Linked DNA regions of Homo sapiens: all the other regions are linked to region 1. The links come from fine-mapping of genetic effects on gene expression. A gene starts in region 1. Each other region holds a variant in brackets. All regions are shown on one strand. Distances are between the middles of the regions. Region 1 holds the start of H3-3A (H3.3 histone A). Region 2 has its middle 15 kb from the start of LIN9. Region 3 has its middle 15 kb from the start of LINC01703. Region 4 has its middle 25 kb from the start of H3-3A-DT.

Region 1 (5,149 bases):
TCCTGATCTCAAGTGATCCACCCACCTCGGCCTCCCAAAGCGCTGGGATTACAGATGTGAGCCATTGTGCTGGGCCTGAGTTCTAGTAAAGCCAATTCAGGACTGACCCGTAGGGCCCTGTGAGAATCCCTTCTTGCTCTGGCACCTCTCCTTCCCCATTATCTAGACTCTACAGTTCACCTCTCTCATTAGCTATAGTTTTTGCCAATCTTGGGGCTCCAAAGTCCCTCTTTCTTTACCCCCTCCTGGTGCTACTTCCCTGTGCAAAGCAGTGCTTCCAGAGATCATAAGCCCCATGAGGGCAGGAACACTGCTTGTGTTATTCACTGCTGCATTCCCAGCACCCCTGAATTGTGCTGAGCAGAGTTGGCACTCAATAAATATTCATTCAGTGAGAAAACTTCCTGAAGCCACTAGGAGGGTAACCAGTCACCTCTCCAGGTGCTTAAATACTTGAACCTACTAGAAAGAATTTGTGGCCTAACTTCATAGAGATAAATATTATTATTCCCATTTCACAAATGGACAGACAGCTGAGTTAGTTCAAATCATCTAAGATCATAATTACTCTACCTAAAATGGTCTGACCCTTGGTTAGAAATATTTTTTAAAGCCAAGAAGTAGAAGCTATTGAAAAATCCAGCATACAAAGAAAACATTACCCATGTCATTTAACATTTCTTGAAGATATGATGCATTTAACTAATGCAGAACAGCCTTCCTGGATAAATCCAACAATAAATATTTCGGTTTCCTGAAAACAAAACAAAAAACAAGCAAAATAACTCATCTTGGCTTGAATTATAGGAAATTCTTTGCTGGCAGCTCGGTCCAAGCTGATTGCATATGTGCTTTTAGGATAGGATTAGAGATTGCATGTGTTCTGCACAGCAACCATGGACACTTAACATTCATGAAATAATAATGAAACGGGAGGCCTGGATTTTTGTCTGTTTGTTTCTCCTAGGTCTCTTCCTCACTTAAGTGACCTTGGACAAATCCATTTCTTCCCTCGTATCTGATTTCCATGTATCTGTTTCGGGATAATGTTTATCACTAAGCCGCTTTGTGAGATCTTCAGATTACAAATAATTACTGCCCTTCATTTATGAAATTTTCCTCCTTCACTACCCTACGGGATATTTGCATGACCCTTCCATTGAAAACCTTTACACACAGTTGTGAAGCGTCAATACCATCTAGGGACGGTTCAGAGGTTCCAAAGCCAATCAACTGACAAGTCGTGAGGATAACTTGGGCCATGAAAAGTCCGTTTCCTATGCTACTGAGAATTGGAAAACAGGTATATGTACTAATTCCCAAACCACGTTTGCCTTCTTTCTGCCGTTTTCAGCCTCTTCTAAACTATGCAGAAGCTGCGGACATTTGACTATCTATATTCGGCAATTCCTTTCCAAAGCAATCCTACCGAAAACAGATCACACGGCCCCCACGGGCGGGCAGGACAAGCCACCAGGCCCTGGTGCAGGAGCTGCGCGCTCCACACATTGTTTAGAGGCCGACGCGACACAGCCATCTTGCGTCGGGGGCCCGGGCCCGGGAGGAGAGCGAGCCCCGTCCCCTGATCCCGGAGGCCAACACCGGCGAGGGGCTGCCCTGCACGCAGGCGGCCGGCCCAGGAGTCTTAGCGGATCAAGTTGTCTACGGCGGACTCGGGCCGGTCCCGCAGGACCCGGCCGCACTTGGCCGAGCGCGCAGGCGGGAAGGAGGCCGTCGGTCCGCCCCTCCCGCTGCCGCAGCGGCCAGGTCCGACAGCGGGCGCGGGACGCTGGATTCCTATTTGCCAGCTTCCTGCTGGGGAGCGTTTTCCAATGGGGCGCGGCGACCCGGCCGACCGCGTCCTCCTCCCCCACTGCCGCCCGGGTCTCCTCGGGGGCGCGCGCCGGGGCCCGCGCGGGGGCAGCCCCTCCCTCCCCTCCCCGCCGCGGCCCGAGACGCCCGCAGGCCGGGCGTTCACCCGCCGCGCCTCCGCCCGCCTTCCCCTCCCCCCACTTCCCTCCGGGCGCCCCAAACCCGGGCTTCGGGGGTTCGACGCCGTGCGCACACGGAGCGGGATGGGAGTGCAGGGCCGGGGGCGGGGGCTGGCCGGGTGCGGGCGGCAGTCTCGGCGGGAGCCGGCGGCCCCTCAGCGTGTCTTTTGTGTTTGTACACACACGGCGCGAGGCGGCCTGGAGGAGGGAGCGGGCGGCGCGCGGGGGAGGGGCGAGCGCGCGCCAGCGAACGGGCGCGCGGGGGGAAGGGCGGGGGCGGGGCGCGAGAGGAGCTATGGGGGCGGGGCCGAGCCTTCCCTCCATTGTGTGTGATTGGCTGGCGCGCGGCGCGGGGGCGGGGCGGCGTGTGTTGGGGGATAGCCTCGGTGTCAGCCATCTTTCAATTGTGTTCGCAGCCGCCGCCGCGCCGCCGTCGCTCTCCAACGCCAGCGCCGCCTCTCGCTCGCCGAGCTCCAGCCGAAGGAGAAGGGGGGTAAGTTTCCCCGTCTGCCCGCTTCCCCGGAACCGAGCCCCGCTTGCCGTCAGCCCCGAGCCGGGCCCTGGCGGTGCCGGGAGGGGACCCATAGCCCCTCCGGCTTAGCCCACAAACTTTTTGGCCCAGAAATGGAGGTGAGGAGCGAGTTTCCCTGTTCCCTCTGGCGGCGGCGGCTCCCCCGTCTCTCGCCGCCTCAGCCCAACAGCAGCAACCGCCGCGGCGCCGAGCCTGCTCTCCCTCCTCCTCCCCGCGCCCCTGGCTCCTCTTTCTTCGGTGAAATCCCGCCCGCCGCCCCTTCCCCGGACCCCAAACCTTCACCATGACCCGCGCGGGCCTCTTAACTACCGCCCCCGGGCCCCAGCCCCCAGTTTTCGAGCGGGAAAGGGGTGGAAATCGCCGCCGCTTCGCACCCTGGGGTAACTCGCTTTTTGCTGCCTCCCCACAGTTGTTGCTAAGCTTCACCATCTTGTCTCTCTTCTCTGGTCACCGACCATATTTTTTCCCCCGTTTCTCTCTTCCCCATTTCAAAAAAGCAAGAATTTTTAAAAGAGGGACGTTTTTTTCCCTTTTTTGGAGAGGCGGAAACTTGATGCATTTGAAATGCAAAAAAAACTTTTGCATTTTGGAGGGCGGCACGTGGCAGGGGATAGGGGTATTTTCGAGCGATTTGGTGTTTTGTCTCTTTGGAACGGAATCGGATACGTTTTGCGATTGTTTCCATTTTGTTCTGGTCGGGGAGCCGAGTTGGTTCCTGCTCGAGGCGCTGGGAGCGAGGCGGGCAGGTTGGGGGACCCTGTGCCGAGGGACCCGAAGGAGGCAAAACCAAAAGTTTATGTGGTGCTTGGGGTGGACCGGTCGGCGGATGTCGTGCGTTAATTAAAGCCTGGGTGCGGGGCACTTTTTATTTCACTGCGAAGCCTGTGAGGACTGGACGCGAGGACGGGGCTTTGTAGAATGCTCGCTGGTGGTAGCTGTTGTTCCTCTCTTGTTTTTTCGAGACGCCTTTTTGTCAACATAACTGTAAAGATGCAAAACCAAGAATATTTTCAGATATTTACAGCAATCCATCAACAGTCAGACGAAGGGGGGGCAGCCAAAGTGGGGGGGAGTAAGACCTTTTTTTTGCTGTAATTTGACTCGACCTTCCAGTGGTTTGTGCCTTTTTTCTTTTGACTTGTTTGTGGATGGAATGTTTACAGACATTTCTAATTACTGCTTTAATTAAATAAATTGGATCAAAGGCCGTTCGAGGTATTTTTGTTTTGCCGTTTGTCGCTCAGAATTGGCATTTTGAGAGGTGATTGATACTGCTAACAATTTTCTAGTACTCTAGTTTGTTTCAAGAAGAGATTTTGGGTAGACGTAATCTTCACCCTTTCAAATTATATAACAATACGAACATTATTTTTTATACTGATCATAATTTCCAGATTTGGGGAGGGGGTGATCGTGGCAGGAAAAGTTGTATGTTTGGTAGTTGCATATGGTGATTTTTGATTTTTCAATGCTGGTAGGTAAGTAAGGAGGTCTCTGTACCATGGCTCGTACAAAGCAGACTGCCCGCAAATCGACCGGTGGTAAAGCACCCAGGAAGCAACTGGCTACAAAAGCCGCTCGCAAGAGTGCGCCCTCTACTGGAGGGGTGAAGAAACCTCATCGTTACAGGTATTAAAAAACAGGAAAAAAATGGGACAAAGTCTCTCTTGTATGTATCCACATAATTTAACAAAAAGATGGATAACAGGAAAACTTTTTGCTTTAGAGAAACTTTTTTTTTTCATTTGAACACTTAACTACTGCTTAAATAAATGTACTGTATGATCATTTATATATAAAGTTAAGTATTAGGTTTTATTGAAAACGTTTAACTTTGAAGCCATAATCTTACCTGGAGGTCTAAGGAGACCTCGTATATCACTGATAATGTTAATGGGATATATTGACATTTTAGTTAACTATTAGTAATTCTTTAAAAATAGTTAAGTGTTGCTTTCTTGAATACACTTTTGAGGTTATCTTTCCTAGTTTTTGGCAAAATAATAATATAATCGAGATTGGGTGTTTTATAAAGTTCCTACCCCCTCATTTACTTGATTAGCTTATTTCCTTCTGTATTAGCTCTTTTGATTGTGAACTACCTGAGCCACTGTGTTGTTAAGGGCATCTGCCATTAGAGGGCAGAAGTTGCCTAGACTTAGCCTCCGCAAATATTACGATTAACCTAAAATAAAAGCTCATACAGTGGAAGAAATAAGTCAGAATGAGAGGTAAATTTCTTGCTGACAATTACTTAGTAAAAAAAACTTTTCCACGTGGAAGGAACACTGCACAATCGGGTGTATTCAAATTTAATAGTTGATGAGGGGTGAACTGTAGTCAGGGTAGAGGTATTCTGGGAAATAGAACTTGAATGCCACAAGCAGATTTTTAAATGAAGTTCATTGGGTTGTGTTGGTCATCTTTAAGGGCTCTTAAGATAATAGAGGGTGTAGGGAAGGAGAGTGGTGCTAAATTGAGGGGAGCCAACTTCTTCATTAGCCTGACAGCTAATACCTTCCCAAGGTTTATATACATGAATAACTTTTTAAAATGAAAATAAATAGGGCTTTGATGAATTTCTTGCTAAGAATGCATTTTAATTTCATGCTTTTTGCTTTAAAGG
Region 2 (5,149 bases), 260 kb after region 1:
TGGGTCTGCGCTACTTTTAAGAGCTGTAACCCTCGCTACAGAGGTCTGTGGGTTCGTTCTTGAAGTCAGCAAGACCACGAACCCACTGGAAGGAAGACACTGTGGATATATCTGAAGGAACAAACTCTGGACACACCGTTTTTGTGACTTCTTAACACTCAACACCAACGTCCGCAGCTTCATTCTTGAAGTCAGTGAGACCAAGAACCCACCGGAAAGAACCGACTCCGGACCCACTGGCCTCAAGGGATCCTTCTGCCTCAGTCTCCCAAAGTGCTGGAGCCGCCGTGTTCAGTCCACTGTACAGGGTTTCATTTTGGGGTGATGAAAATGTCTTGTAATTGGCCGGGTGTGGTGGCTCACGCCTGTGATCCCAGCACTCTGGGAGGCTGAGGAGGGTAGATCACTTGGGGAGAGGAGTTCAAGACCGGCCTGACCAATACGGTGAAACCCTGTCTGTTTTAAAAATACAAAAATTAACTGGGTGTGGTGGTGGGCAGTGGTAATGCAGATACTCGGGAGGCTGAGGCTGGAGAATCACTTGAACCTGGGAGGCAGAGGCTCAGTGAGTTGAGATCGTGCCACTGCATTCCAGCCCGGGTGACAGCAAGAATCCGTCTCAAAAAAAAGTCCTGAAATCAACCCTGGTGGTTGCACAACTCTGTGCATACAGTAGTCCCCACTTCTCCAGAGTTTCTCTTGCCGTGGTTTCATTTACCCATAAACAACTGAGGTCCGAAAAGAGATGAGTACAGTATAAGATATTTAGAGACACAGTTACAATATACAGTAACTTGTATTACAGTATACATTTGTTACAGTATATTGCTGTGATTGCTCTGTTTTATTATTATTTTTGAGACAAGGTCTGTCATCCAGGCTGGAGTGCAGGGGTGCAATGATGGCTCACTATAGCCTGGACCTCCCCAGGCTCGGGTGATTTTGCTACCTCAGCCTCCATAGTAGCTGGGACCACTGGCATGCATCACCACACCCAGCAATTTTTGTATATTTTATAGAGATGGGGTTTTGCCATGTTGCCCAGGCTGGTCTTGAACTCCTGGGCTCAAGCAGTCTGCTTGCCCTGGCCTCCCAAAGTGCTGGGGTTACATGCGTGAGCCGCTGTGCCCAGCCTGTTCTATTTTATTATTAGTTATTGTTGTTAATCTCTTACTTTGCTAATTTACAAATTAAACTTTATCGTAGGTATGTATGTATAGAGAAAACAGTATATATAGGATTCAGTACTATCGTCAGTTTCAGGCATCCAATGGGGGTCCTGGAATGTATCCCCCAGGGTTAAGTGTGAACTAGTATATACTAAAAACTATAGAATTGTGTATTTTAAATAGGTGAATTGTGGTCTGTGAAGTATAACTCAATAAATGTGTTACAAGGAAAATCTTGTTTTCAGACTAGGTTTTATCCCAATCTTAAAATCTTTGGTAGTCGTTTTGTGCTAGACCCCTTCCTAGGCACTTAATGAAGATGTGAAGTCAAAGAGGCACTCTACTAGGCAATTTTATTTATTTATTTATTTATTTATTTATTTTTTGAGACGGGGTCTCACTCTGTTGCTCAGGCTGGACTGCAGTGGGGCAATCACAGCTCCTGCAGCCTCAACCTCCCAGGCTCAAGCCACATCCTCCCACCTCGGACTGCCAAATAGCTGGGACTGCAGAGGCACGCTACTACAGGGGCACACTATTTTTTGTAGAGACAGGGTTTTGCCATGTTGCCCAGGCTGGTCTAGAACTCCTGAGCTCAAGCAATCCGCCCTCAGTCTCCCAAAGTGATGGGATTACCGGCACTTGGCCTGTTCAGAATTTCTTAAATGAATTAGCACATATAAGCTAGAGGAGCCCACCAGCCCAGGCTACCCAAGGAGGAATACCTTGTCATCAGAACTGCCCAAACCAGAAAGATTGGATGACTCAACACAGTGCAGATTTGTGAATTCTAACCCAGAAAGATTGCCCCTTCAGGACCTGTATGTGTCCAAGGAAACATTAAGAGTTTAATAGCCTGGGCAACATAGTCAAACTCTGCCTCCACAAAAATTAGCTGGGTGAGGTGGTGTGCGCCTGTAGTCCCAGCTACACAGGAGGCTGAGGTGTGAGGATCAGTTGGGCTGGGGAGGTTGAAGCTCCAGTGAGCTATGATTGCACCACTGCAGTCCAGCCTGGGAAACAGAGCAAGACCCTGTCTCAAAAAAAAAAAAAAAAAAAAAAGAAAAGAAAAAGGTTTATAGTCATCAATTCTGCTGTCTT[C/T]TCATAACCCCTAGTATTCTAGGCAATTTAATAGGGTACGATTATTCAGTAATTGGCCAGCAAATACTTATTAATTAAGCACCTACTATGTGGCAGGAACTAAGGTTGCAAAATTCAATGTGACATAGTGCCTCGCAGAGCTTTCAGTCTAAGGGAAGACACAGACACATTCCATAAGCAATTGCAATAGTTTGACAGTAGCTGTCCTAGGGCTGAGGTCAAGATACTGTAGGAGCATAGTGGAGTGCGGGATGTAGGGGAGGAAAAGAAATATTTTTTCCTTGATCATCACTGGGTTTGTGGCTGAAGCCCCTATAACAAAAGATAGTTTAACAAGAAAAGTATACACATTTATTTATTTAAGTTTCATGCGACATGGGAGACTTTAAAAGGAAATGGCTGGGTGCAGTGGCTCGCGCCTGTAATGCCTCGGGAGACTGAGGTGGGCTGATCACCTGAGGCCAGGAGTTTGAGACCAGCCTAGCCAAGATGGCGAAACCCAGTCTCTACTAAAATTACAAAAATTAGCTGGGTGTGGTGGCATGCGCCTGTAATCCCAGCTACTTGGGAGGCTGAGGTAGGAGAATCGCTTGAACCCGGGAGGCAGAGCTTGCAGTGATTCAAGAGCAAGCCACTGCACTCCAGCCCAGACAACAGAGCAAACCTCCGTCTCAAAAAAACAAAAAAAGGAAATGGCCCAAACAAACAGGTAAATCTGTGTATATTTTATGCTAGGTTTGATGGAGAAGTGGATGGTCCTGGAAAAATATAATTGGATAAAAAGTATGATCTAATGTTAATAAAGTGTGAGGGGACCACTTAGCAAGACCTATTTGTTCCGATTTTTCTTTGTGTCTCTGTGTGTTCAGAGATAAGGATGTCCCTTTCCTCTAGGTATAGGGAGGGACCTCTCCAATGAGGTCTCATGACCTGCTTCAAGGGAGAAGGCTGAGAGGAAGATGAGATGGACCTACTTGCTTCTGCTGTTTTCTCAAATACCAAAGTGCTGTATTTGTGGGTAGCATGTCCTGAACTTAATCAGAGGTTGATAGGGGGTGAGGTAAGAAATGTTTCCCAGTCTTTGAACTGAGACCTGAAGGCTGAGTAGAAGTTAGAGAGAGGAAGTGGAAGAAGAAAGTACTATGATTGGCAGAAAGTCATGTGCAAAGGCCCAGGGGAAAGAAAGAACAGAGCTTTTATCCCAGGAACTTTAAGTAGTTGAGGATAGTTGAAGAGTTTAAAATTAGATGTGGCAAAAGCTAAGACTCAAGAGATAAACAGGGGCCTCACAAGTATAGAGGGCTTTTGAAACCTTTCCTGAAATGGGTTTTGATACCTATGGAGGTGCACCACTGCTAGTCAGGGTTCTCTAGAGAGAGAGAACCAACAGGGGATGATTAGATAGATAGATAGATAGATAGATAGATAGATAGATAGATACATACATACATACATACATACATACATACATATACAGACAGAGGAGAAGGGATTTATTAGGGAATTGGCTCACATGATTCTGGAAGCTGAGAAGTCCCATGACAGGCCATCTGCAAGCTGGAGACCCTGGGATGCTGGTATTGTGGCTCAATCCAAGTCAAAAAGTCTTAGAACCAGGGATGCCAATGGTGTAATTCTCAGCCCAAGCCCCAAAGCCTGAGAACCTGGTGGGGTGGGTGGTGCTCATGTAAGCCCTAGAGTCTCAAGGCTGGAGAGCCTGGGGTCCTGATATCCAAGGACAGGAGGAGAAGAGTAGGTCCCAGCTCCAGGAGAGAGAGGAAATCCTTTTCTCTCCTTTTTTTGTTCTATCTTGGCCCCCAGCCAATTGGTTGGTGCCCAGCCACATTGAGGGAAGATCTTCCCCTCTTAGTCCACTGACTCACACGCCAGTCTGCTCTGGAAACCCAGACAGACACACCCAGAAGGAATGTTTTACCATCTCTGTAGGTGTTCCTTAATCCAATCCAGTTGACACCTAACCTTAACCATCACAGCCACTGAGATCTCCAGCCTCCAACTGCTGTCCCTAAGCTCTGCCACAGTATTCATATCAACACCATGCTCTCCCCAGGCTGCTCCTAGCCAATAACTGCGCATGGCAGAGCTGCTCAAACCAGCCCATTCCATGCCTCCTCTAATGGGCTTTCTTGGCTGTGGGGGCTCCTGTGTGGTCTGGTCAGGATAGGCTGCACGCTTACCTGTAGAGCTGCCTGGAGCCTGATGGTGACCCTTGGCCAACACTATGGAATATATCAAATGATGTTCTGTAACCATCGGTCTGTGGATTGTTTGGGGAACAGGACATACCAGCCCATCAGCACTGTTTAATAATTGTTTCTTTGATGGAGCCTGGAGGATTTCAATATTAAGGCTGGTCATGGAGCTAAAACATGCCTATGTGACCAGTTCACTCCAAGAGATCCCACCATGAGTGAGCTTTGGACTTCCTGGTATGTACACACATGACGGTTCAAGACCTGAACGTGTAGCACAGGCAGTGGGAGTCAGCAGAGACAGAACAAAGAAGCCTGTGCCTGAGATCTGTAGCCCCTTCTTTGCATAACGTTGCCTGCTGTTACCATACTGTATCCTTTGCCTGTTAAAAACTGATATGTGAGGGCTGGGCTGGGTGGCTCACGCCTGTAATCCCAGCACTTTGGGAGGCTGAGGAAGGTGGATCATGTGAAGTCTGGAGTTCAAGACCAGCCTGGCCAAGATGGTGAAACCCTGTCTCTACTAAAAATACAAAAATTAGCTGGGCATGGTGGTGCACACCTGTAATCCCAGCTACTCGAGAGGCTGAGGTGGGAGAATTGCTTGAACCCGAGAGGTAGAGATTGGGGTGAGTCGAGATCTGCCACTGCACTCCAGCCCGGGTG
Region 3 (5,149 bases), 35 kb after region 1:
GAGAGGCAAAGGGGCAGGAGACATGTGAGGGCATTCTAGGTGTGGGGAATGGCTTATGCCACTGTCCAGGTGCATGAACCTATCAGGGAGTTGGGGAAGACAAAACTCTTGGTAGTGGCTGTAGCAGAGCAATGGTGAAGGAGCCAGTCTGCCGCAGCCACTCTTCAGGACTTTGCTTTCCTGGGGCCAGGTTGCAAACAACCTTGAAGCTTGACCAGGGTATGTGGACCTTATCCTAATTTTTATGGGTTTTGTTTGTTTGTTTAATCAGAGACAGGGTCTCTCTATGTTGCCCTGTTTAGTTTCCAACTCCTAGACTCAAGAGTCCTCCTGCCTCAGCTCCCCAAAGTGCTGGGATTACAGGCATGAGCAGCCTGGCCTATTGGAGGTGGTGTGTGTTTGTTTGTTTGTTTGAGACAGAGTCTAGCTCTGTCGTCCAGGCTGGAGTGCAATGGCACCCTCTCAGCTCACTGCAACCTCTGCCTCCTGGGTTCAAGCAATTCTCCTGCCTCAGCCTCCTGAGTAGCTGGGACTACAGGTGCACACCACCACGCCCAGCTAATTTTTGTATTTTTAGTGGAGATGAGGTTTCATCATGTTGGCCAGGCTGGTCTTGAGCTCCTGACCTCAAGTGATCCGCTCGCCCCCGCCGCGGCCTCCCAAAGTGCTGGGATTACAGGTATGAGCCACTTTGCTTGGCCCCTATCCTAGGTTTTTAAGTAGGGAAGTAACATGATCAAGCTTGTCTTGCTCAGAGCTCCCCTCGGAGGAAAGGCTGGAGGAGGTGACTGAAGCTGTTGCCTTGAGGACCCAGTCTGGTCTCCAGCCTCAGTGCTTCAAGGACAGGGTCCTTGCTGTATAGAGCTACTGGTGATTCAGACACAATCCACCTTGTGTTGCCTGCGGCTGACCTCCACTGGCAGGTGCCCTCTCCCTCTACAGTGGAGGTGTATGCGCTCAGGCAATGCAGGCTCAGCCCAGCTGTGGTCCCCCTGGAGGCAGTGAGCCCTTTGAGAGGTCTGAGCCAGGGGTGGTGGTTCACACCTGTCATCCCAGCAGTTTGGAAGGCTGAGGCTGGAGGATTGCTTGAGGCCAGAAGTTTGAGACCAGCCTAGGGAACATAGCAAACCTATCTCTACAAAAAAAAAAAAAAAAAAAATTAGTCAGATGTGGTGGTGTGTTCCTGTAGTCCTACCTACTCAGGAGGCGGAGGTGGGAGGATTACTTGAGCCCAGGAGTCCGAGGCTGCAGTAAGCTAAGGTTGCATCATTGCACTCCAGCCTGGGCAACACAGCAAGACCCTGTCTCTAAGTAAATAAATAAATACATTTTTTTAAATTAAAAAAAAAAGAGAGGGAAATCCAAGCCAAATCCTCCAGGGGTCAAAGTCCTGCTGTCCTCCCCTGCTCTGCTCAACCCCAGCCTACCTCTGTGTGGGGTGGGGGTGTCGGGGGAACCCATGCCGCTGAGCAAGGAGCTCCCTCAGCTGGTCTATTAGTCAGGTGAGGCTAGGTTCTACCGCAGTAAATCAGCCCCAAACTTCAATGACTTCACACAACAAAGTATATTTCTCAATCATGTTATACGCTCAGTGCAGTGGAGAAAAGAGGATGGAAGGGCAGGGCTCTGTTCCACCTAGGGTCTCAGGGATCCAGGTTGCTAGAAGAGCCACCATCTAGACAATCACCAGTCACCATGGCATGGGAAGAGAGGGCATGGAGAACTTACACCTTTTGATCCAGTAGTGACACATGTAAACCAAAAAGTGACTGAGGCAGGTCTCAATTGATTAGAAGCTTATTTAACCATGATTGAGGATGCAAAAAAACCAACAAAACAAAAACAAGTCACAGAAGCATCTACAACCTGTGATTTTTCCAAGGAAGGTTTCAGGAACTTCAGTATTTGAAGGGGAAAGAGCAAGCAGAAGAGGAAAAAAAAAAAAAAAAAAACGGGGTAAGGGGGCTGGGCGTGGTGGCTCACGCCTGTAATCCCAGCACTTTGGGAGATCCAGGCAGGTGGAGCACCTGAGGCAAGGAGTTCGAGACCAGCCTGGCCAACATGGTGCAAACCTGTCTCTACTACAAATACAAAAATTAGCCAGGCATGGTGATGCATGCCTGTAATCCCAGCTATTTGTGAGGCTGAGGCATGAGAATCACTTGAACCCAGGAGGTGGAGGTTGCAGTAAGCCGAGATCGCTCCACTGCGCTCCTAGAAGGGTAGACAATGAGGCAAATGGATACAATCTTAGGTTCCTATTAGCCTTAGTGAATGTACCTTTTACATGTGAAACAGAGGACCAAGTCA[A/C]TTATGCAAAGTCTTGGGGTAGGAGGAGGGATGATTTCTAGTCTTGTCCTTATCCTGTCCCTGTGAAGATAAGCTGATAATTGACATTGTCAGGGTGAAGTTTAACAGAACTTGATTTTAGAACTAGCTTATAGGGGAATGTGTATTCTGAAAGGTTTAGGGGCCCACAGGGAATTTCCTTGTGAACAATTTGGGAAATATGTAGCCTTCTATTGTTGTGGGAACCTGGCTTACGAATGAGGCTATGACACAGGATTGTGAAACTACCGCTATCTGTTTGGGAACAAAAGGAAGGCAGTTTTTCTGTGACTCAGTTCCCAAACTTAACTTTCCCTTTGGCATAGTGAGTTTGGGGTCCCAAGACTCTGTTTGCTTTCACATATAGGTCACACTTCCGATTATAGCCAATTGGCCAGCACTAGCCCACTGGCCAGCAGCCAGGGTTCTGGAAAGGTAGAAGAGCCCACGGGTACTCAGTGGGCAGTGACTGTCTGTTCAGCCAAGTGCAAGCCAGGTTGGAGAGCAGGTTGGCTCCTGCCTGGACATAGGAAGATGGATGACAAAGGATGCCCAGAAAGGTGTGGGCTCCTTCCCAGTTACCTCCAGCCTCCATCTGCTCTCTGATTCCTAGAGCACAGCTCAGAGAACATCAGTTCCACTTTCCCCCAGCTTACCCAAAATATAGCCCCTACCCATTCTGGCCTCAGCACAACGCTGCCTGATTTCTCTCCACTCTTTCTCCCCTCCCCTCCCCCTGCCCTCCCCATCTCCCCATACCTCCCAGCTCCAACCACACGAGGCTCCCCCTGCTCTGTAATATATACTTTATTTCCTTTACCCCTCCGGGAATGTTCTACCCCTCTCTGCTCACTAGAATCCCACCCATTCTTCCAAATCTAGCTCACTTATCACCTGGTCCATGAAGATTCTTCCCACAGAATATCCTCTGCTTCCTCTCACCTCACAGTCTCCTACAGATGAAATGCCCAGCCCACAGCTCCCCACTGAAGGGGCAGCCCCAGGCAGACCATGTGATCCCATTCCCTATCCCAGCCACAGTGAGGTGGATCCACACGGCCACTCTGTTGCCTGGGCAGTGGCCTATGAGGTGGGGCCTGGTGGGAAGGATGAGATGAGCTAGGTCTATCAAACTCTCTTTAGATAACTTTTTTTTTCTGGAGATAGGGTTTTGCTGTATCACCCAAGTTGGAGTGCTGTAGTGCAGTCAGGGCTCACTGCAGCCTTGAACTCCTGGGCTCAGGCAATCCTACCACTTCAGCCTCCAAAGAAGCTGGAACTATAGGCATGTGCTACCATGCCTGGCTAATTTTTTTAACTTTTTATAGAGACGGCGGGATCTTGCTTATGTTGCCCAGGCTGGTCTGGAACTCCTGGCCTCAAGCAACCTTCCCACCCCAGACTCCCAAAGTGCTGGGATTACAAGTGTAAGCCACTGTGCCAGCCAGCCAGTGTTTTCTTGCTGTGTCCTCAAAGAGAGAAAGGAACTAGTGAGCTCTCTGGGCCTTTCTTATAAGGTCACTAATCCCAGTCATGAGGACTTCACCCTCATCTCATCACTTCTCAAAGGGCCCACCTCATAATACCATCATTTGGGGATTAATCACCTCCTTTGAGAATGAAAGTTAAAAAAAAATTGGGGGTTAAAATTTCCACATACAAGCCAGTCATGGTGGCTCATGCCTATAACCCCAGCACTTTGGGAGGTGAGGTGGGAGGATTGCTTAAGCCCAGGGGTTCCAGACCAGCCTGGGCAACACAGGGAAACCCCATCTCTATAAAAAGTTTTAAAACTAGCCAGCTGTGGTGGCATGCCTGCAGTCCCAGCTACTTGTGAGGCTGAGGTGGGAGGATCACTTGAGTCTGAGAGGTTGAGGCTACAATAAGCCATGACCACATCACTGCACTCCAGCTTGGGTGACAGAGTGAAACCCCATCTCAAAGGAAAAAAAAATTTTTTCAACATATGGATTTGTAGGGGTGGCACAAACATTTAGACCATAGCACATCCAACTCTGTAATTCCTACCTCTGGGCTTTTTATGTAAGAGACAGACACACATAACTGGATTCAAGTTGACTTCATTTCACATAAGCAGTGTCTTCTTAAAGAACAACTTGTCAAATACAATTTTCATTCACTGACTTCCACACTGAGGGAGGATACTGGGTCCTAAACAATGTTTTCCTAAAATATTCTGTGCAAACCAGATTTTAACCAATGTAGTCATTGTTCTCCACTGACTTACTTTATGAATATTAATGATGACTTTTATATTCAGCGTTCACTTCGTGGTGACACCTAGCTAGTGTTTAGTTTTTCAAAAATTTCACTCCTTGGACCATTGGGTAATAACCAGCAAACAACAGGTAAGAGTCCCAAACTGCTGCTTGAAAGAGAAAAATCCCTTTGGAAGACCACGGTAATAACTACTACTAATGTGTGGGGGTTTTGTTTGTTTTTTGTTTTTGTTTTTGTTTTTGTTTTCAGAGGGAGTCTCGCTCTGTCGCCCAGGCTAGAGTGCAGTGGCACCATTTCGGCTCATTGCAACCTCCACCTCCCGGGTTCAAGCGACCCCAGACTCCCGAGTGGCTGCGATTACAAGCACCCGCCACCGCGCCCGGCTGCACTCTAGCCTGGGCAACAGTGCAAGAGTCCGTCTCAAAAAAAAAAAAAAAAGAGTAATAGACTGTATTTCCCGAAGTATATTCATGGCCTTGGATGTTGTTAACAAGCATTAAGATTTTAAAAGGGCCCGAGGTCAAACCATTTAGGAAGAATGCCTAATTCCCACAGTTAAGGCTCGGTGGGTGGGCGCATG
Region 4 (5,149 bases), 25 kb before region 1:
TAATGAGCAATTCTTTTTTATCTTATTTTATTTTATTTATTTTATTTTTTTAAGACAGGGTCTCTGTCTGTTGCCCAGGCTGGAGTGCACTGGCATGATCATAGCTCACTGCAGCCTCGACCCTGGCTCAAGTGATCGTCCAACCACAGCTTCCCGAGTAGCTGGCACCACAGGTGTGTGCCACCACACCCGGATTTTTATAGGTTTTTTTCTTTTCTTTCTTTGTTTTTTTTTTTGTAGATGCGGGGTCTCACTATGTTCCCCAGGCTGGTTATGAACTCCTGGCCTCAAACGATCCACCTCGGCCTCCCGAAGTGTTGGGATTACAGGTGTGAACCACCACGCCCGGCAGCAATTCTTAGGGTTTAAATAAACGTATTGCTTTTTTCTCTTATTAGGAAAGTAAGACATATTCATTGTAAGGCATATAATATATATAAGCAAAAAAAGGAAAAAAAACAACCAATGCTGTTCATCTAACTTTTTGTTAGGTAAGTTCAGACTTTCTTCTGGAGAGTTCTCTCTGTCTTTAAGTTCTATATTCTCTTTGATCCCTACTATGAAAGAACTTTTACCCAAATATAAATGTATAATTAGAAAAGATTGTATTTATATGGCTTGTTCTTGACCTTTTCCAAAGAGGTGTACACTGAAAATGCCCATATAATTGAGAAAGGCATTATTCCCAGGGGGAAAATTTCCATGGACATAGTAAAGCCATTATCCAGCTTTGTTCAGAGGGATTCTCATCCTACCTGAGGAGGAAAGAGGTGCCAAGCATTTGGGACCATTGAGTCCAAACTTCTTTTGAGTAAATAAAGGGCTTTTGCATTTAGCATGTAGGTGCTGAATTCAGCAAAGGAGGCACAGCAGAGACAGAGGAGCTCTCTGTATCTTCCTTCACCTTTTTACTTCCCTCTTTGCCTGTGGGCAGCAGTGAAAGAAGAATCTCCTGCTGGCTCTAAGACTCCCAGGGAATAGCCCCAAGGTTTTTCCCTCTTCCTTTCTCACTTTCCTTCTTTCTGCTGCTCACAGAGCAGTTCCAATTCTACCAATTCTACCATGATGTAGTCTCCATGAGGCCTCTTGCCAATAGGAAAAACTCCTCCCCTTCCTACTGCACTTGTGCTCCTTTCTGGAGCATCACTGGGTGTTTTCAGTTCACCCAAGTGTTCATTTAACAAACACCAGGTAGGCCGGGTGCAGTGGCTCATGCCTGTAATCCCAGCACTTTGGGAGACGGAGGCGGGTGGATCACAAAGTCAGGAGTTCAAGACTAGTCTGGCCAACATGGTGAAACCCCGTGTCTACTAAAAATACAAAATTTATCTGGGTGTGGTGGCTCAATTTTTTTGAGACGGAGTTTCACTGTTGTTGCCCAGGCTGGAGTGCAGTGGCACGATCTCGGCTCACTGCAACCTCCGCCTCTCGGGTTCAAGTGATTCTCCTGCCTCAGCCTCCCAAATAGCTAGGATTACAGGCATGTGCCACTGAGCCCAGCTAATTTTTGTATTTTTAGTAGAGACAGGTTTCACCATGTTGGCCAGGCTGGTCTCGAACTCCTGACCTCAAGTGATCCACCCACCTTGGCCTCCCAAAGTGCTGGGAATAGAGGTGTGAGCCACTGTGCCAGGCCAATTTACATGCAATTATAAGAGACAGTACAATCCTGTCTCTATAAAAAAGAAAATAATTAGCCAAGCATGGTGGTACATGCCTGTAGCCCTAGCTACTTGGGAGGCTGAGATAGGAAGATCACTTGAGCCTGGGAGGTTGAGGCTTCAGTGGGCTGTGATCACACCACTGCACTCCAGTTTGGGTGACAGAGCAAGACCCTATCTCAAAAAAAAAAAAAAAAAAAAGGGAGATAATATAGAATCACAATGTCTTACAATTTCACACTTACTAGGATGGCTGTAATTAAAAAAAAAAAAAAACCAGACAATAACAAATGTTGGTAAGGATGTGGAGAAATCAGACCCCTCAGACATTGCTTATGGAAATGCAAAACAGTGCCACCCCTTTGAAAAAAGCTTGGTGATTCCTTAGAAAGTTAAACACAGAGGGCCGGGCACGATGGCTCACGCCTGTAATCCCAGCACTTTGGGAGGCCAAGGCAGGTGGATCACGACGTCAGGAGTTCGAGACCAGCCTGACCAACACGGTGAAACCCCGTCTCTACTAAAAATACAAAAATTAGCTGGGCGTGGTGGCG[T/C]GCACCTGTAATCCCAGCTACTCAGGCCTCAGGCTGAGGCAGGAGAATCGCTTGAACCCGGGAGGCAGAGGTTGTAGTGAGCCGAGATCACGCCACTGCACTCCAGCCTGGGCGACAGAGTGAGACTCCATCTCAAAAAAAAAAAAAAAAGAAAAAGAAAGTTAAACATACAGTTACTATATGACTCCGCAATTCCACTCCTAGGTATAAATACCTAAGAGAATTAAAAACACATGTTCACACAAAAACTAGTACATGAATGTCCACAGCAGCATTATTCATAGTAGCCAAGAAGTAGAAACAACCCAAATGTCCATCAACTTATGAATATGATAAATAAAATGCAGAAGTAGACCCATACAATGAAGTATTATTTGGCTGTAAAAAGAAATGAAGTGCAGACACATTTTATAAAATATTAATAGATGGATTTTGAAAACCTTGTGCTAAGTGACAGAAGCCAGACACAAGGCCACATATTGTATGATTCCATTAATATGAAATATCTAGAGTAGGCAAATCCAGAGACAGAAAGTAGATTAGTGGCTGCCAGGAGCTGGGGGAGAGGGGAACAGGGAGTAACTAATAATGGATACAGGGTTTCTTTTGGGGGTGATGAAGAGGTTCTAAAATTAGATAGTGCTGAAGTTGCACAACTTTGTAAATATGTTAAAAACCACTAAATTTTACACATTAAAAAGGTAAATATTACGTGAATTTTATCTCAATAAAATTTATTGAAAAAAGAAATATGCAGAGAGATCCTGCGTACCCTTCACCCATTTCCCCCCAATGGTAACATCTTATATAACTATTGTACAATATCACAGCCAGGAAACTGACATTGATAGAACCCTTCGCCATTACTCAGATGTCATCAATTTTTAGTTTTTTAGTATTTAGTTCTTTTTTTTTTTGAGATGGAGTCTCACTCTGCTGCCCATGCTGGAGTGCAGTGGCGCGATCTCGGCTCACTGCAACCTCCACCTCCAGGGTTCAAGTGATTCTCCAGCCTCAGTCTCCTGCGTAGCTGGGATTACAGGCATGTGCCATCACACTCAGCTAATTTTAGTATTTTTAGTAGAGATGGGGTTTCACCATGTTGGCCAGGCTGGTCTTGAACTTCTGACCTCAAGTGATATGCCTGCCTCAGCCTCCCAAAGTGCTGGGATTACAGGCATGAGCCACCATACCCAGCCACTCATGTGTGTGTATTTGGTTCTAAGCAAGTTTACATGTGTGGATTCACGTGACCACCACCAAACTCAAGATGAAGAACAGTTCCACCACACAGACCCCTTATGCTACCTTTTTATGGCCACAGTCACTCTTCCCTTCTACCTGACCCCTGATCTGTTTTCTATCTCTATACATTTATTGTTTCAAGAATATTATCTAAAACGAATCACACAGTATGCAACTTGAGATTGGCTTTTTTCACTCAGCAAAATTCTCTGGAGATCCATCCAGATCGTCATGTGTATCAATAATTCCTTCCCTTTTATTGCTGAGTAGTATTCCATGGTATGAATGTACCATAGTTTATTGAACCTTCCACCATTAAAGGACATTTCAGTTGTTTCCAGTTTGGGGCAATTAGGAATAAAGCTATTGTGAACAGTTATGACCAGGAACATAAAAACTTTCATTTCTCTGGGTAGATGCCCAGGAGTGTAATTGCTGCATCATATGGCAGGTGCATATTTAATATTGTAAGAAGCAGTCATATTCTTTGCTAGAGTGGCCATGCCATTTTATTTTCCTACTGGCAATATGTGAGTGATCAAAGTTCTCTCTATCCTCACCAGCATTTAATGGTGTCATTATTTTTTATTTCAGTCATTCGGATCATACATATACTTTTTACAAGTTAGACAAACATGCACCATACTCTTGACAGCGGTGGTTTCTAGTGTATGTATGGGTTAATTCAATGGAAGACTCTCCTTTATATATTATATACTTTTGTAGTTTTTTGTTTTTGTTTTTGTTTTTTTTTGACAGAGTCTTACTCTGTCACCCAGGCTGGAGTGCAGTGGCACGATCTCGGCTCATTGCAAGCTCCACCTCCCGGGTTCACGCCATTCTCCTGCCTCAGCCTCCCGAGTAGCTGGGACTACAGGCACCCGCCACCACGCCCAGCTAATTTTTTGTATTTTTAGTAGAGACGGGGTTTCACCGTGTTAGCCAGGATGGTCTCAATCTCCTGACCTCGTGATCCGCCCACCTTGGCCTCCCAAAGTGCTGGGATTACAGGTGTGAACCACTGCGCCTTTTTTTTTTTTTTTTTTTTTGCGACAGAGTCTTGCTCTGTCACCCAGAGTGGAGTGCAGTGGCACAATTCGGCTCACTGCAACCTCCGCCTCCCGGATTCAAGCGATTCTCCTGCCTCAGCTCCCGAGTAGCTGGGATTACAGGCATCTGCCACCATGCCTGGCTAATATTTTTAGTAGAGACGGGGTTTCACCATGTTGGCCAGGCTGGTCTCGAACTCCTGACCTCTGGTGATCCGCCTGCCTAGGCCTCCCAAAGTGCTAGGGGCATGAGCCACCACGACCGGCCTGTAGTGTTCAAATTTTACATAACTTAATGTTGTACTTGTAATCTAAAACGCAATAAGGATTTTAAAAAGTTGGCCAGGCACAGTGGCTCACGCCTGTAATCCCAGCACTTTGGGAGGCTGAGGCAGGCGGATCACCTGAGGTCAGGAGTTTGAGACCAGTCTGGTCAACATGGTGAAACCCCGTCTCTACTAAAAGAACAAAAATTAGCCAGGCATGGTGGTGCATGCCTGTAATCCCAGCTACTCGGGAGGCTGAGGCAGGAGAATCACTTGAACCTGGGAGATGGAGGTTGCAGTGAGCCGAGATGGCACCATTGCACTCCAGCCTGGGCGACAGTGAGATTTCGTCTCCAGAAAAAAAAAAATTGTTC

What was found.
Region 2: its variant is fine-mapped to the expression of H3-3A in whole blood (TOPMed, PIP above 0.99).
Region 3: its variant is fine-mapped to the expression of H3-3A in cerebellar hemisphere (GTEx, PIP above 0.99).
Region 4: its variant is fine-mapped to the expression of H3-3A in cerebellar hemisphere (GTEx, PIP above 0.99).

What each region holds. Positions count from the first base shown.
Region 1 is chr1:226,060,328-226,065,476 of GRCh38, forward strand. H3-3A (H3.3 histone A) reads left to right here and starts at 2,389. Exons shown (of 4, transcript NM_002107.7): 1 at 2,389-2,484; 2 at 4,002-4,152. The coding sequence starts at 4,025. H3-3A-DT (H3-3A divergent transcript) reads right to left here and starts at 2,168. Exons shown (of 2, transcript NR_185887.1): 1 at 663-2,168. RefSeq lists silencers at 1,508-2,357, 1,944-2,109, 2,728-2,797 and an enhancer at 3,991-4,060.
Region 2 is chr1:226,321,268-226,326,416 of GRCh38, forward strand. No RefSeq gene overlaps it. Among named protein-coding and RNA genes, the nearest start is that of LIN9, 15 kb to the left of the region's middle. The variant C/T (reference allele first, on the strand shown) is at 2,271.
Region 3 is chr1:226,095,564-226,100,712 of GRCh38, forward strand. No RefSeq gene overlaps it. Among named protein-coding and RNA genes, the nearest start is that of LINC01703, 15 kb to the left of the region's middle. The variant A/C (reference allele first, on the strand shown) is at 2,311.
Region 4 is chr1:226,034,952-226,040,100 of GRCh38, forward strand. No RefSeq gene overlaps it. Among named protein-coding and RNA genes, the nearest start is that of H3-3A-DT, 25 kb to the right of the region's middle. The variant T/C (reference allele first, on the strand shown) is at 2,216.